Homo sapiens: one gene and its partners. The protein of the gene in region 4 interacts with the protein of the main gene of each other region in a pairwise test. Each region holds a gene or a part of one and is shown on either strand. Other genes may lie near its edges.

What was found. The genes of interacting proteins can lie anywhere in the genome.
Region 1: the proteins of BAG6 (region 4) and GINS3 interact in binary tests that used the Homo sapiens proteins (3 or more experiments, as listed by UniProt).
Region 2: the proteins of BAG6 (region 4) and TMTC1 interact in binary tests that used the Homo sapiens proteins (3 or more experiments, as listed by UniProt).
Region 3: the proteins of BAG6 (region 4) and ZBTB8OS interact in binary tests that used the Homo sapiens proteins (3 or more experiments, as listed by UniProt).

What each region holds. Positions count from the first base shown.
Region 1 is NC_000016.10:58,395,471-58,398,970, reverse strand, and holds part of GINS3 (DNA replication complex GINS protein PSF3), read right to left. Parts: intron 1-3,500. UniProt on the Homo sapiens protein: Required for correct functioning of the GINS complex, a complex that plays an essential role in the initiation of DNA replication, and progression of DNA replication forks.
Region 2 is NC_000012.12:29,518,443-29,521,942, forward strand, and holds part of TMTC1 (protein O-mannosyl-transferase TMTC1), read right to left. Parts: intron 2,622-3,500; exon of another isoform or gene 2,491-2,621; intron 2,279-2,490; coding exon 2,176-2,278; intron 1,379-2,175; exon of another isoform or gene 1,289-1,378; intron 166-1,288; coding exon 30-165; intron 1-29. UniProt on the Homo sapiens protein: Transfers mannosyl residues to the hydroxyl group of serine or threonine residues.
Region 3 is NC_000001.11:32,620,320-32,623,435, reverse strand, and holds the end of ZBTB8OS (protein archease), read left to right. Parts: intron 1-1,487; coding exon 1,488-1,574; 3' UTR 1,575-2,616; downstream 2,617-3,116. UniProt on the Homo sapiens protein: Component of the tRNA-splicing ligase complex required to facilitate the enzymatic turnover of catalytic subunit RTCB. Together with DDX1, acts by facilitating the guanylylation of RTCB, a key intermediate step in tRNA ligation.
Region 4 is NC_000006.12:31,642,662-31,646,161, reverse strand, and holds part of BAG6 (large proline-rich protein BAG6), read left to right. Parts: intron 1-557; coding exon 558-755; intron 756-963; coding exon 964-1,216; intron 1,217-1,532; coding exon of another isoform or gene 1,533-1,559; coding exon 1,560-1,637; intron 1,638-1,747; coding exon 1,748-1,855; intron 1,856-1,967; coding exon 1,968-2,080; intron 2,081-2,184; coding exon 2,185-2,272; intron 2,273-3,046; coding exon 3,047-3,333; intron 3,334-3,500. UniProt on the Homo sapiens protein: ATP-independent molecular chaperone preventing the aggregation of misfolded and hydrophobic patches-containing proteins.

The sequences.
Region 1 (3,500 bases), on a different chromosome or scaffold from region 4:
CAACAAAACAATTAACAAATGAGCTAATTTACACATACGGATTATTTATTGCACACTATGACTTCCCATAGACATCTTTTCAAGTCCACACAGAATGGTTAAATTGGTCTTATGCTTTGCCATAGAGCAAGTCTCAGCAACTTTCAAGACTGAAATCATGTAGACTATGTTTTCTGGCCACGGTGGAATTAAGCTAGAAATAAAAAATGGTAAATGACCAAATCTCAAAATGTTTGAAATTAAGCACTAGTCTTCTAAATACCTACAGGTCAAAAAAGAAATCACAATTAAACAGTATTTTAAACAGTATTTTAAAACGCAAAATTAAACAGTATTTTAAAATTTTTATTTATTTTCTTTTGAGACAGTATCTTGCTGTGTCATCTAGGCTGGAGTGCAGTGGTGTGATCACGGCTCACTGCAGTACTGACCCTCCAAGGCTTAAGTGATCCTCTTGCCTCAGCCTCCTGAGTAGCTGTGACCACAGGTGTGTGCTACCATGCTCGGCTTTTTTAAAAAATTTTTTGTAGAGATGGGGACTCACTATGTTGCCTAGGCTGGTCTCGAACTCCTGGGCTCAAGTGATCCTCCTGCCTCCACCTCCCAGTGTTGGGTCTATAGGTGTGAGCCACCATGCCTGGCCTAAAAAGTATTTTTAGTTCATTGATAATGAAAATATAACACATCAAAACTTATGAAACGCAATTAAAGTTGTGAATTGAATAGAATAATTTCACTTAAAAGAAATGAATAGCTATGAATGTATAAAAGAAGATTGAAAAATTAATGACCTAGGTTTCCATCTCAAAATGTGTATCTGTGTGTGTGTGTGTGGTGGGAGAATTAAGCCCAAATAAAGTAGAAGGAAAGAACTAATTAAAAAATTAATGACCTAAAAAACAAAGGTACAAAAGAGAAAACCAACAGAGTCCTAAGTTAGTTCTTTTAAAAGAATAAAAAAATTGATAGACTCCTGGCAAGGGTAATCAAGAAAGGGAGAACACAATTTATTGATATTAAAAATAAAAATAAGGACACCACTGTAATCCTACTGACATTAAAAAGATAGTAAAGGAAATTCTGAACATTGTACTGATACCATTGAAAATTTAGACAAGCTCTCCCTCTCCCTTTCCCTCTCCCTCTCCCCACGGTCTCCCTCTCCCTCTCTTTCCACGGTCTCCCTCTGATGCCGAGCCGAAGCTGGACTGTACTGCTGCCATCTCGGCTCACTGCAACCTCCCTGCCTGATTCTCCTGCCTCAGCCTGCCGAGTGCCTGTGATTGCAGGCGCGCGCCGCCACGCCTGACTGGTTTTCGTATTTTTTTGGTGGAGACGGGGTTTCGCTGTGTTGGCCGGGCTGGTCTCCAGCTCCTAACCGCGAGTGATCCGCCAGCCTCAGCCTCCCGAGGTGCCGGGATGGCAGACGGAGTCACGTTCACTCAGTGCTCAATGGTGCCCAGGCTGGAGTGCAGTGGCGTGATCTCGGCTCGATACAACCTCCACCTCCCAGCTGCCTGCCTTGGCCCCCCAAAGTGCCGAGATTGCAGCCTCTGCCCGGCTGCCACCCCGTCTGGGAAGTGAGGAGCCTCTCTGCCTGGCTGCCCAGTCTGGAAAGTGAGGAGCGTCTCTGCCCGGCCGCCATCCCATCTAGGAAGTGAGGAGCGTCTCTGCCCGGCCGCCCATCGTCTGAGATGTGGGGAGTGCCTCTGCCCTGCTGCCCCGTCTGGGATGTGAGGAGCATCTCTGCCCGGCCGCCCCGTCTGAGAAGTGAGGAGACCCTCTGCCTGGCAACCACCCCGTCTGAGAAGTGAGGAGCCCCTCCGCCCGGCAGCTACACCGTCTGGGAAGTGAGGAGCGTCTCCGCCCGGCAGCCACCCCATCCAGGAGGGAGGTGGGGGTCAGCCCCCCGCCCGGCCAGCCGCCCTGTCCGGAAGGGAGGTGGGGGGGTCAGCCCCCCGCCCAGCCAGCCGCCCTCTCCTGGAGGTGAGGGGCGCCTCTGCCCGGCCACCCCTACTGGGATGTGAGGAGCACCTCTGCCCGGCCAGCCGCCCCGTCCGGGAAGGAGGTGGGGGGGTCAGCCCCCCGCCCGGCCAGCCGCCCCGTCCGGGAGGTGAGGGGCGCCTCTGCCCGGCCGCCCCTACTGGGAAGTGAGGAGCCCCTCTGCCCGGCCAGCCGCCCTGTCCGGGAAGGAGGTGGGGGGGTCAGCCCCCCGCCCGGCCAGCCGCCCCGTCCGGGAGGGAGGTGGGGAGGTCAGCCCCCCGCCCGGCCAGCCGCCCCGTCCGGGAGGGAGGTCGGGGGGTCAGCCCACCGCCCGGCCAGCCGCCCCGTCCGGGAAGGGAGGTGGGGGGATCAGCCCCCCGCCCGGCCAGCCGCCCCGTCCGGGAGGGAGGTGGGGGGGATCAGCCCCCGCCCGACCAGCCGCCCCGTCCGGGAGGGAGGTGGGGGGGTCAGCCCCCGCCCGGCCAGCCTCCCCGTCCGGGAGGTGAGGGGCGCCTCTGCCCGGCCGCCCCTACTGGGAAGTGAGGAGCCCCTCTGCCCAGCCAGCCGCCCCGTCCGGGAGGGAGGTGGGGGGGTCAGCCCCCTGCCCGGCCAGCCGCCCCATCCGGGAGGTGAGGGGCGCCTCTGCCCGGCCGCCCCTACTGGTAAGTGAGGAGCCCCTCTGCCCGGCCAGCCGCCCCGTCCGGGAGGGAGGTGGGGGAGTCAGCCCCCCACCCGGCCAGCCGCCCCGTCTGGGAGGTGAGGGGCGCCTCTGCCCGGCCGCCCCTACTGGTAAGTGAGGAGCCCCTCTGCCCGGCCAGCCGCCCCGTCCAAGAGGGAGGTGGGGGGGTCAGCCCCCCACCCAGCCAGCCGCCCCGTCCGGGAGGGAGGTGGGGGAGTCAGCCCCCCGCCCGGCCAGCCGCCCCGTCCGGGAGGTGAGGGGCGCCTCTGCCCGGCCGCCCCTACTGGAAAGTGAGGAGCCCCTCTGCCCAGCCAGCCGCCCTGTCCGGGAGGGAGGTGGGGGGGCCAGCCCCCCGCCCAGCCAGCCGCCCCGTCCGGGAGGTGAGGGGCACCTCTGCCCGGCCGCCCCTACTGGGAAGTGAGGAGCCCCTCTGCCCGGCCACCACCCCGTCTGGGAGGTGTACTCAACAGCTCATTGAGAACGGGCCAGGATGACAATGGCGGCTTTGTGGAATAGAAAGGGGGGAAAGGTGGGGAAAAGATTGAGAAATCGGATGGTTGCTGTGTCTGTGTAGAAACAAGTAGACGTGGGAGACTTTTCATTTTGTTCTGTACTAAGAAAAATTCTTCTGCCTTGGGATCCTGTTGATCTGTGACCTTACCCCCAACCCTGTGCTCTCTGAAACATATGCTGTGTCCACTCAGGGGTTGAATGGATTAAGGGTGGTGCAAGATGTGCTTTGTTAAACAGATGCTTGAAGGCAGCATGCTCGTTAAGAGTCATCACCACTCCCTAATCTCAAGTACCCAGGGACACAAACACTGCGGAAGGCCGCAGG
Region 2 (3,500 bases), on a different chromosome or scaffold from region 4:
ACTTATAAAGAAAAGAAAGGGAACTTTACCGCTTGTACCATTCTTCAGCCATGCTGTTCTCTCCCAGTGACCTGTAGAGTCTTCCCAAGTTCACCATGGCCACGTGATGACTGGGGCTAAGTTTGATGGCCTGCTGGTAATGGGCCACTGCCTTTTCTGGTAAGCCTGTAACCAGTGACAGGTTGGTAAGAGCAGAACATGCCTTTTTATAAAAGACATGAACATTTCACTTTCTCTTCTGACTTATAATTCTTTCTCATTATTACAGAGTTATACCAAAATTATTCAATATGCAAATTAGCTTGCATTTCAGCTTCTCATCCTGGCCATTGCCTAACTTTGAACAATTTCACTGTTCATTCATACTTCCAAAAAAATTAACAAAAAAGCAGTAAAAACTAAAACCTATTGTTTTAATTATATATATTATTTTAGTCGAAATTTTTCTGGTCATCGCTCTTGCTAATAGGATGCCTTCAGATTATTAGTGATTGTTATTTATCCAAGATATAACTGGCTCTCATTATATAAAAAATAGAACAGGCTACTGTAGAAATAAAACTGTCCAGAAGCAATTTCTAAGGGTCTGTCTCAATGAACTATACTTCAACATAGCAATTGAAGCATTACTTTAAATAACACATATCAGCTCTATAGTGAAAATCTCTTTTAAAATCATGCACTTTCATTTGAATGGCACTTAATTAATAAGACTTACAACATAATAATGCCACCATGCACTTGTCCAATGCATTATATATTTTTAAATACTTACATTTGTATGGTTTTTGCAGGTATTTTTTTATACAATTTAGCTGCCTTTTGATACTGTTTAGCTGTTTATCAGGATTTAAGAGATATTTAAAAAACCACACACAAAAATTTTCCACTTTACAGATATAGACACTAAAGTGCAAAGATATTCAACAGACTTGATAAAGATCCCAAGGCAAGTGAGAGTAAGGCCAGAAGCAGAATGAAGGCCCTCTACTCTGATAGGTTTCTTCAAAGTAGCTTCCTGGTGAAACTATATTCAGTAACTACACTTTAGAACACTGTGAAATTCTAAATAGAATGGAATGTCTATTATCTACACAGAAATCTTTTCAAGCGTATCTGTTTGAATACAAGTTTGACTAGGAGGTCCCTAGGAGCCTCTGTCTCTGGAGGCAGAGGCTCAATGTCATAGGGTGGTCACAGAGTTATCATTTTTAGGGGTGTGGTGGGGTGGGACTGTTGTTGAAGTAAAAGGAGGAGGGTTAGACCTGCCCAACTAGAGGTTTCTTCTAGTTTTTATATTTTTAAGACAGTTTATTATTATGTGGCCAATGAACCAGCAGGTGGCACTACACAACAATTTTACACAGGCAAAAATAAGGTAAGTTTCTTAGATGTATCAGAATGTAAATTTTATATTCTGTAAAACAAGAGAGCTCCAAATATCCTTGAAAATAAAACCCCTTTAAGCATTTCATATTGAAAAACTAATTAAACTAAATTTTGCTGCAGGGCAGCTAGTCTAGTAATCAACAAGAACAAAGTGGTGCTTTGGCCTTACATTTAAATATAATTTCATTACTTACATTGCATGCCAACAGTACAGAGGCACTACATAAGTCATAAAGAAAAGAGAATTCATGCCCAGTAATGTTTTGCATTAAGTAAGATAAAGTAAGTGTATTTTATATAGCACCTGTCATATAAGAGCATTGTATCAATTTTAATAATGCAGTTTCTAATGTACATCAAGGAAGGAATGATGGAACAATTCTGGAGGCTTTTAAAAAATATGTTATAGAAAAGTATTTACCATCTGCCAGTAACTGCTTTCAGAGGCAGGTTTTGCATCATTGTAGAGAAACATTTCATCATCATGGATTTATAAATATATATAAATAATATTCAAAGAAGATTGGGACTTATTAAATCATAAGGCTACTTCCTGTCCCCTGGGGAGTTTTCCATAGAGAAATGAGTATGAGAATGGCCAGATTTTACTGAATCGAGCTTGAAGATCTAGAGAAATGACAGCCCCGAGGTATAATGACTGTCAATAGTGTGAGCTTCCTGCCAAGCCCAGTGAATTTTACTTCTGAGGATTATTTGCCTTCCATTTTGCTTGATAAATTGTATTAGCTAATCTCAGCAGTACAGTTTCTCTTTAATTTCACTTACCAGTATCAACTAAGAAAACCCCATAGTTGTTGTGTAAATCTGAGCTGTCTGGACAGTTCTTTATTCCAGTTTGGTATATTTCTTCAGCTTCTTTAAACCGCTCCTTTAAAAAGAAAGAAACAAACAAAATAAGTGAGAAAGCTTTCTAAAACCAACAATAACTGAATATTAGGAGCAGGAAAAGCAAAAAAAAAATAAATCTTACTAAGCACCTAATATACAACAGGCTACTGAGATAAGGCACTATGAACTTTGTTTGAATTAAAGGCAATATTAACTGTGTACAAAATACCCAAAATTCATATCTGTATTTAGTTCCCTTAGGGCGAAAAAGATGATGTTTTCTCAAATGGGACCTTTGGAAGGATATGGACCTGTACAACATGCACGCCTACCGGGGAAAAAGGACTGAAAATAGTTGTTCGAATAGGATGCCCTTCACCCCGGTGACTCTCCATACGAAAACGGGGGATGCAAAAATGGTGGAATGTTTTCAGAGGTGGCAATGTGGTTGGGAGGCAGGGCAGTCTGGGGAATTTGTTTTCTAGCTGCATTTGGATAGATGACTCTCTTTTTATCTATATACTGTACTGCTTGTTTTGGGAAGTTTTTGAGGGAAGTAGAGAGGGGAGGCAGATGCAGATGTTGGGGAGGGCTCTGCCCTATCCTTTCATTACTTGAAGTATGTCTACAGCCCACCAGACTGGTGGCTACTTCCCATACTCAGTCCATGCTTTCCACCTCTGAGCTGCTCCCTCCAACAGGTTTATATGTCCCCTCAAGGGTGTACCTCCAACCTGTGTGGCAAGGTTCAGGTCGATCACCACATCTCTCATTCTAGGGCTCCAATTCTAATTGCCCTTGTGTTCTCTTTGTCTAAAGATTCACTTTAGCAAACTTTAGTAATTCTGAGTTACTTTTTAGGTACATTTTTCTTTTTCTTTCTTTCTTTTTTTTTTTTTTTTTGAGACAGAGAGTCTCACTTTGTCGCCTTGGCTGGAGTGCAATGGGGCGATCTCGGCTCACTGCAACTCCTGCCTCCTGGGCTCCAGTGATCCTCCCACCTCAGCTCCCTGAGTAGCTGGGATTACAGGCATGTGCCACCATGCCCAGCTAATTTTTGTATTTTTAGTAGAGATGGGGTTTCCCCATGTTGGCCAGGCTGGTCTCAAACTCCTGGCCTCAAGTGATCCGCCCGTCTTGGCCTACCAAAGTGCTGGGATTACAGGCATGAACCACTGCACTTGGCCCTTTTAGGCATATTTTTCACAACCATTAGAGACTGTTATGTCACACTTACTTTTACTATACAGAAGGTGAAATTA
Region 3 (3,116 bases), on a different chromosome or scaffold from region 4:
AATGAGGGAGGAATGATCACTAGAGGAGAAGAGAAAGAATTGTCTCAGAGAGTGAAAAAGGGAATTTATTGGTAATTGTAAGATTTTACTGCGAGTACTGAATTCCTGTTTGAGATGTGTGGACATACACTCAGGGTGATACCAGTTAGCATGGTGTGTGCTGCCATAAGCAGACAGTTGAACTTGAATTAGGTTGTGGTTTTGCCAGGTGATTGTGGCAGAGGAGAAAAAGCAGTGGCAGTGCCACTTATATCCTTCTGTGAAATCTTCCTTTTTTTGTGTGGTGTAGAGCTAGCAAATGCCATTTACCTATTGCCTGGTACATTTTATGGTGCACAGAATTATTGTAGATTCCTTTTGGAGCTGGAAAGAACCTAAGAGAACATCTAATTCTGTGGTTTTAAACTGGGGCAGGGTTGGGCAATGTCATGTATCAGAGACGTGTGGAGAGCTTTTGACCTGGGAAACTATATCTTATTCTTCAGCTAGACTTGGAAAGAGAAGAGTCCCAAGAGGTGAAGTGAGTGTTGTCAACTGAGGAAAAGAGAATAAGTTGAATTCCTAGGGCCTAGGTCAGAGTATAAGGAGGTGGTTTTGATTTCAGAAAGAGCCCTGAGCCAAATAGTAGAAAAGCTTGTGTTCTTTGATTCAACCCATTTTCTTTTTTTTTTTTTAATCATCCTCAAAAGTTTTTTACTTTTTTTTCTTTCCAACTTTTATTTTTAGGTTCATGGGGTACATATACGAGTTTGTTACATGGGTAAATTGCATGTTGTGGGGGTTTAGTGTACAGATAATTTTGTCACCTAGGTAATCAGCATAATACCTGATAGGCAGTTTTTCAATCCTCACCCTCCCCCAACTCTCAAATAGACCCGGTGTCTTGTTTCCCTCTTTGTGTTCATGTGTACTCAATGTTTATGTCCCAAATAAATATATGGAAACATGGTATTTGATTTTCTGCTCCTGCATGAATTCACTTAGGATAATGGCCTCCAGCTCCATCCACGTTGTTGCAAAGAACATGATCTCATTCTTTTTTATGGCTGTGTAGTATTCTATGGTGTATGTGTGTCACATTTTCTTTATCCAGTCTACCATTGATGGGCATGTGGATTGATTCTATGTCTTTGCTATTGTGAATAGTGCTGCAGTGAACATACCCATGGATGTGTCTTTATGTGATTTAACCCATTTTATAAATGAAAAACTGATGTCCAGACAGGCCAGACAATTTCTATACACCCAGGTGGAAACAAAGCCAGGATTAGAGTTCCATGTCCCAACTCCATTGTGCATGTGTTGCCTCTCATTTTTCTTGGATCCCTGTATATTCTCCTAATTTGATAACTAATTGTTTCATGTGAGTTTTTCATTTTCAAAATACTAAAATTTTTACTTTCTGCTGATTGTTGCTAGAGTTAATGATTATGATTTCAATATCCTATTTTCCTTTTTTTTTTTTTTTTCTCTAACCCCAACTTTAGGGAACAGAAGTCAAAGCAATAACATATTCAGCAATGCAGGTCTATAATGAAGAGAACCCGGAAGTTTTTGTGATCATTGACATTTAAGACACCAAAAAATAAAAGACTCCTACGAAGAACTGTTTTTGTTTTCCTCTTCCTTTTGAGAAGACACTATGAATTAAATTCTACAGCTTTTTTTTGATATATGGAAATTTGTAGAACAGAAATATTTTAGTTAAAGTGTGACTTTCAGAAAGGGAAAATCAGGGCACAGCCTTGGTCTGTGTTCCCCAAATATTCACACTTTAAAGAATTCTTCAACCCCCCAAGGGACAGTTATGGTCCTTTGATTCTCTGCTGTGGCAGTAGGTGTGCCTCATGCCCTTCCAGTGCAATGCAAGCCCTCCAGCCTCACCCCAGAGAGGATCACTGATGTCAGCAGCAGCCTGAGGCTGAATCCAGGTTGAAAGAAGAATAACTTGAAAAAATATATTTCCACACACAGAATTTTGTTTTTCTTCCAAGTTGGTTAAGACATATATTTTGTTTCTTTTTTTTTTTTTTTTTTGAGACGGAGTCTCGCTCTGTAGCCCAGGCTGAAGCGCAGTGGTGTGAGCTCGGCTTACTGCAAGCTCCACCTCCCGGGTTCACGCCATTCTCCTACCTCAGCCTCCCGAGTAGCTGGGACTATAGGCACCCGCCACCATGCCCGGCTAATTTTTGTATCTTTAGTAGAGACGGGGTTTCACTGTGTTAGCTAGGATGGTCTTGATCTCCTGACCTTGTGATCCGCCCACCTTGGCCTCCCAAGGTACTGCGATTACAGGCATGAGCTACCATGCCCGGCCACAAGACATAGATTTTCTATATGCACATCAAGGGAGGTGCTGGTTTAGGTTGCTATAGGACAGAGCTATCCTGTATTCCAGTTGGTTTTTGTAGAGAAACAATTAGACTTCTCTAGATAGAGCCCTGATTTTTCTCTCACGCTTTCAGTTTTTTAAAAGCACTAATGATATTTCCTGTTTTCTCATAAGAAAAAGTCAATACTATGCCTTACAAAGAGACCTTTCCTTCTAATATAGAATTTTATTTGAAAGTGAGTACATGTTTATAACTAGAGAATAAAAGGAGAATTTTTGAAAAATTTCTTTATTGTTGTTTTTGTTTAACTACTTAAGCTATTCGTCCTTTTTTTTGAGACAGGGTCTTGCTCTGTCCCCCAGGCTGGAATGCAGTGGTGCAATCATAGCTTACTGTGGCCTCGAACTCCTGGGCTCGAGCAGTCCTTCCAACTCAGCTTCCCAAATTGCTGGAACTACAGGAATGCACCACCATACCTGGCTAATTTTTAAATTTTTTTGTAGAGACAGGGTCTCACTATGTTGTCTTGAACTGGTCTTGAACTCCTGGGCTCAAGTGATCCACCTTGGCCCCCCAAAGTACTGGGATTACAGGTGTGAACCACTGCACCAGGCCTAGCTATTTGTCTTTAAGGAGACAGGAGGCCAGGAAAACAACCTTAAAATGATCTGAACTCTTAAAGTAGATGACTTTTTAAAAATGAAATTTAGTTTGATTTGCACCTTTTTTCTTGTTTCTATTGATTGAGGTATTCTCTTTTGGGATCAAGAGTTTGCAAAGTTG
Region 4 (3,500 bases):
ATATAAACATTAGCTGGATGTAGTGGTGCACACCTGTAATCCCAGCTACTCAGGAGGCTGAGGCAGGAGAATCGCTAGAACTCGGGAGGAGGGGGTTGCAGTGAGCCGAGATTGCACTACTGCACTCTAGCCTGGGTGACAGAGCGAGACTGTCTCAAAAAACAAAACAAAACAAAAAAACACACATTGCAACAAAACAATTTCTCTCTAAACCTGTAAGTGATTTTGTCCTCCCTTACAGAGAAGGTGATAATCTTTGCTGTAAGCACTGTCCTCGTATCGTACCCCTTGTGCCCCTGAATGAATTTAGAAAATGTAAAGTACAGGAGATCAGTATATGATGACTTACTGATTCATAGTAGTGTTTTAATAGGATGTTCCTTATGTGAATAAGATATAATTTATTTGCAAAGATTTGGTCTACATGTAAACTTCCAAGGATATAACTGAAAGTTTTGGAGGACATGGTATTCTCAGTAGGCATTATTGCTTTTATTAGTGAGATGGACTCCAGCTTGATATTTTCTGCCTTTTTGTGTTTGGCTGGTTGTGCGCAGCACGAGGGCCGGGAGGAGGATCAGCGGTTGATCAACTTGGTAGGGGAGAGCCTGCGACTGCTGGGCAACACCTTTGTTGCACTGTCTGACCTGCGCTGCAATCTGGCCTGCACGCCCCCACGACACCTGCATGTGGTCCGGCCTATGTCTCACTACACCACCCCCATGGTGCTCCAGCAGGCAGCCATTCCCATACAGGTGGGTTAGGGGGAGTCTGGCCTGAGGGAGAGTGAGGGGTGTTGATAGAGTGACCCAGGGTAGCTACTGGGCCTGAAGGAGGTTAGGAAAGGAGGAGACTGGAAACATGGTGATGAAGGCTGGAGATACTTTAGAGGTTTATCATGAGGTTTTCTTGGTTAGGCTCTTGTATTTTTCTCACATCTGCCTGTCCATCTGTCTTTTTCAGATCAATGTGGGAACCACTGTGACCATGACAGGAAATGGGACTCGGCCCCCCCCAACTCCCAATGCAGAGGCACCTCCCCCTGGTCCTGGGCAGGCCTCATCCGTGGCTCCGTCTTCTACCAATGTCGAGTCCTCAGCTGAGGGGGCTCCCCCGCCAGGTCCAGCTCCCCCGCCAGCCACCAGCCACCCGAGGGTCATCCGGATTTCCCACCAGAGTGTGGAACCCGTGGTCATGATGCACATGAACATTCAAGGTGAGAATAGTTGCTGGCGAGAAGAGCAGGATCAGCATGATGAGGGAGGTTCATGCTGAGGTGTGAGGGAACAGGGTGGGGAAGGGAGAGGCACATGCTGGTGGTGGTAGCCTGGGGACCAGAGCAGAAGCTTAAGTAGACAGATGTGGGGGGTGTGGGGGTTGGTTTGTCTTTGGAGGTGTGTTTGTGTGGTGAAGGGAGTACCTCTCCCTGTTTAGATGGAGGGAAAGGCAGGCTTTCTGATTGGGGGATTATGGGCCTGAAGTATGCCTGATCTCAGAAGGATATAGTTAGGCCTTGGCCCTACCTACCTCAGGGCCACTGTCTCTGTCTCCCTGCCCAGATTCTGGCACACAGCCTGGTGGTGTTCCGAGTGCTCCCACTGGCCCCCTGGGACCCCCTGGTCATGGCCAAACCCTGGGTAAGAGTGAGGGCATCAGGGCAGGCTGAGCTCTGGGTAGAGAAAGGGAAGGGCTGAGTGGGTGGGTTGAAGGGGTCCAGGTTCAAGGTTACATCAGACCCGCCCCCCAGGCTCCACCCTCATCCAGCTGCCCTCCCTGCCCCCTGAGTTCATGCACGCCGTCGCCCACCAGATCACTCATCAGGCCATGGTGGCAGCTGTTGCCTCCGCGGCCGCAGGTAATGACCTGGAAGGGGAGGCTTGGGAGGTAGGGCACAGTCCATGGTGGCAGCTGGCTGGCAAGGGCCTGGCCCTCAGCCCTCTTCGGTCTGTCTCTTCTGCCACCCACAGGACAGCAGGTGCCAGGCTTCCCAACAGCTCCAACCCGGGTGGTGATTGCCCGGCCCACTCCTCCACAGGCTCGGCCTTCCCATCCTGGAGGGCCCCCAGTCTCTGGGACACTGGTGAGCAAGGGTCGGGGAGTTCTAGTGCGTAACAGTCTAGGGAGAGACTCCTGTGGTGGTGCATGGAAGGGCAGGTCTGAAATTCTCCCTTGCTCTCTATCCAGCAGGGCGCCGGTCTGGGTACCAATGCCTCGTTGGCCCAGATGGTGAGCGGCCTTGTGGGGCAGCTTCTTATGCAGCCAGTCCTTGTGGGTGAGTTTTCATTCTTCCCCACTCAGAGTTTAAACTCCTTTCCTAGTCTGCTCACTGGCACTTTCCAGTTCTTTCCATATTTTCTTGGTTCCTGCTTTCCTGGAATGGGGCTGCTGTAGTGTCTTGTGTCTTCAGGTTTCAGCTTTTTTTTTTTTTTTTTTTTTTTTTGAGATGGAGTCTCACTCTGTTGCTAGGCTGGAGTGCAGTGTACAATCTTGGCTCACTGCAACCTCTGCCTCCCGGGTTCAAGTGATTCTCCTGCCTCAGCCTCCTGAGTAGCTGGGACTACAGGTGCACGCCACCACGCCCAGCTAATTTTTTATGTTTTTAGTAGAGAAGGGGGTTTCACCATGTTGGCCAGGATGGTCTCGAACTCTTGACCTTGTGATCCACCCACCTTGGCCTCCCAAAGTGCTGGGATTACAGGCTTGAGCCATCGTGCCCGGCCAGCTTTTTTCTTTTTTTTTTAAGTTACAGAGTCTTGCTCTGTCACCCAGACTGGAGTGCAATGGTGCAATCCAGTGAGTTAAAGCTCACTGTAACCTTGAACTCCTGGGCTCAAACAGTTCTCCCACCTCAGCCTCCTGAGTAGCTAGCAGTACTAGCTCCTGGCTAGTAATTGTCTTTTTTTTTTTCTGGTAGAGATGGGGTCTTGCTATGTGGCCTAGACTCCTGGGCTCAAGCAGTTCTCATGCCTTGGCCTCCCAAAGTTGCTAGGATTACAGCCAAGAGCCACCATGCTCAGCCCAGCTTTCTTTTTTTGGTTTCTTACAGCTCAGGGGACCCCAGGTATGGCTCCACCGCCAGCCCCTGCCACTGCTTCTGCCAGTGCTGGCACCACCAACACAGCTACCACAGCTGGCCCCGCTCCTGGGGGGCCTGCCCAGCCTCCACCCACCCCTCAACCCTCCATGGCTGATCTTCAGTTCTCTCAGCTTCTGGGGAACCTGCTAGGGCCTGCAGGGCCAGGGGCTGGAGGGTCTGGTGTGGCTTCTCCCACCATCACTGTGGCGATGCCTGGTGTCCCTGCCTTTCTCCAAGGCATGACTGACTTCTTGCAGGTGAGTGGCTGGCTTGCCATTCACCTCATCTTCCTGTCCCCCGGCCCAGCCAGGCAGTGGTACCTTCTTGCCATTATATAACCACTGGGTAAGAGCCCCTAGTGACATGTTAGGGGAAGGGGCCCTGGGAATTCATTGACTCTGAACCTTTCATTTTAAAGATGAAG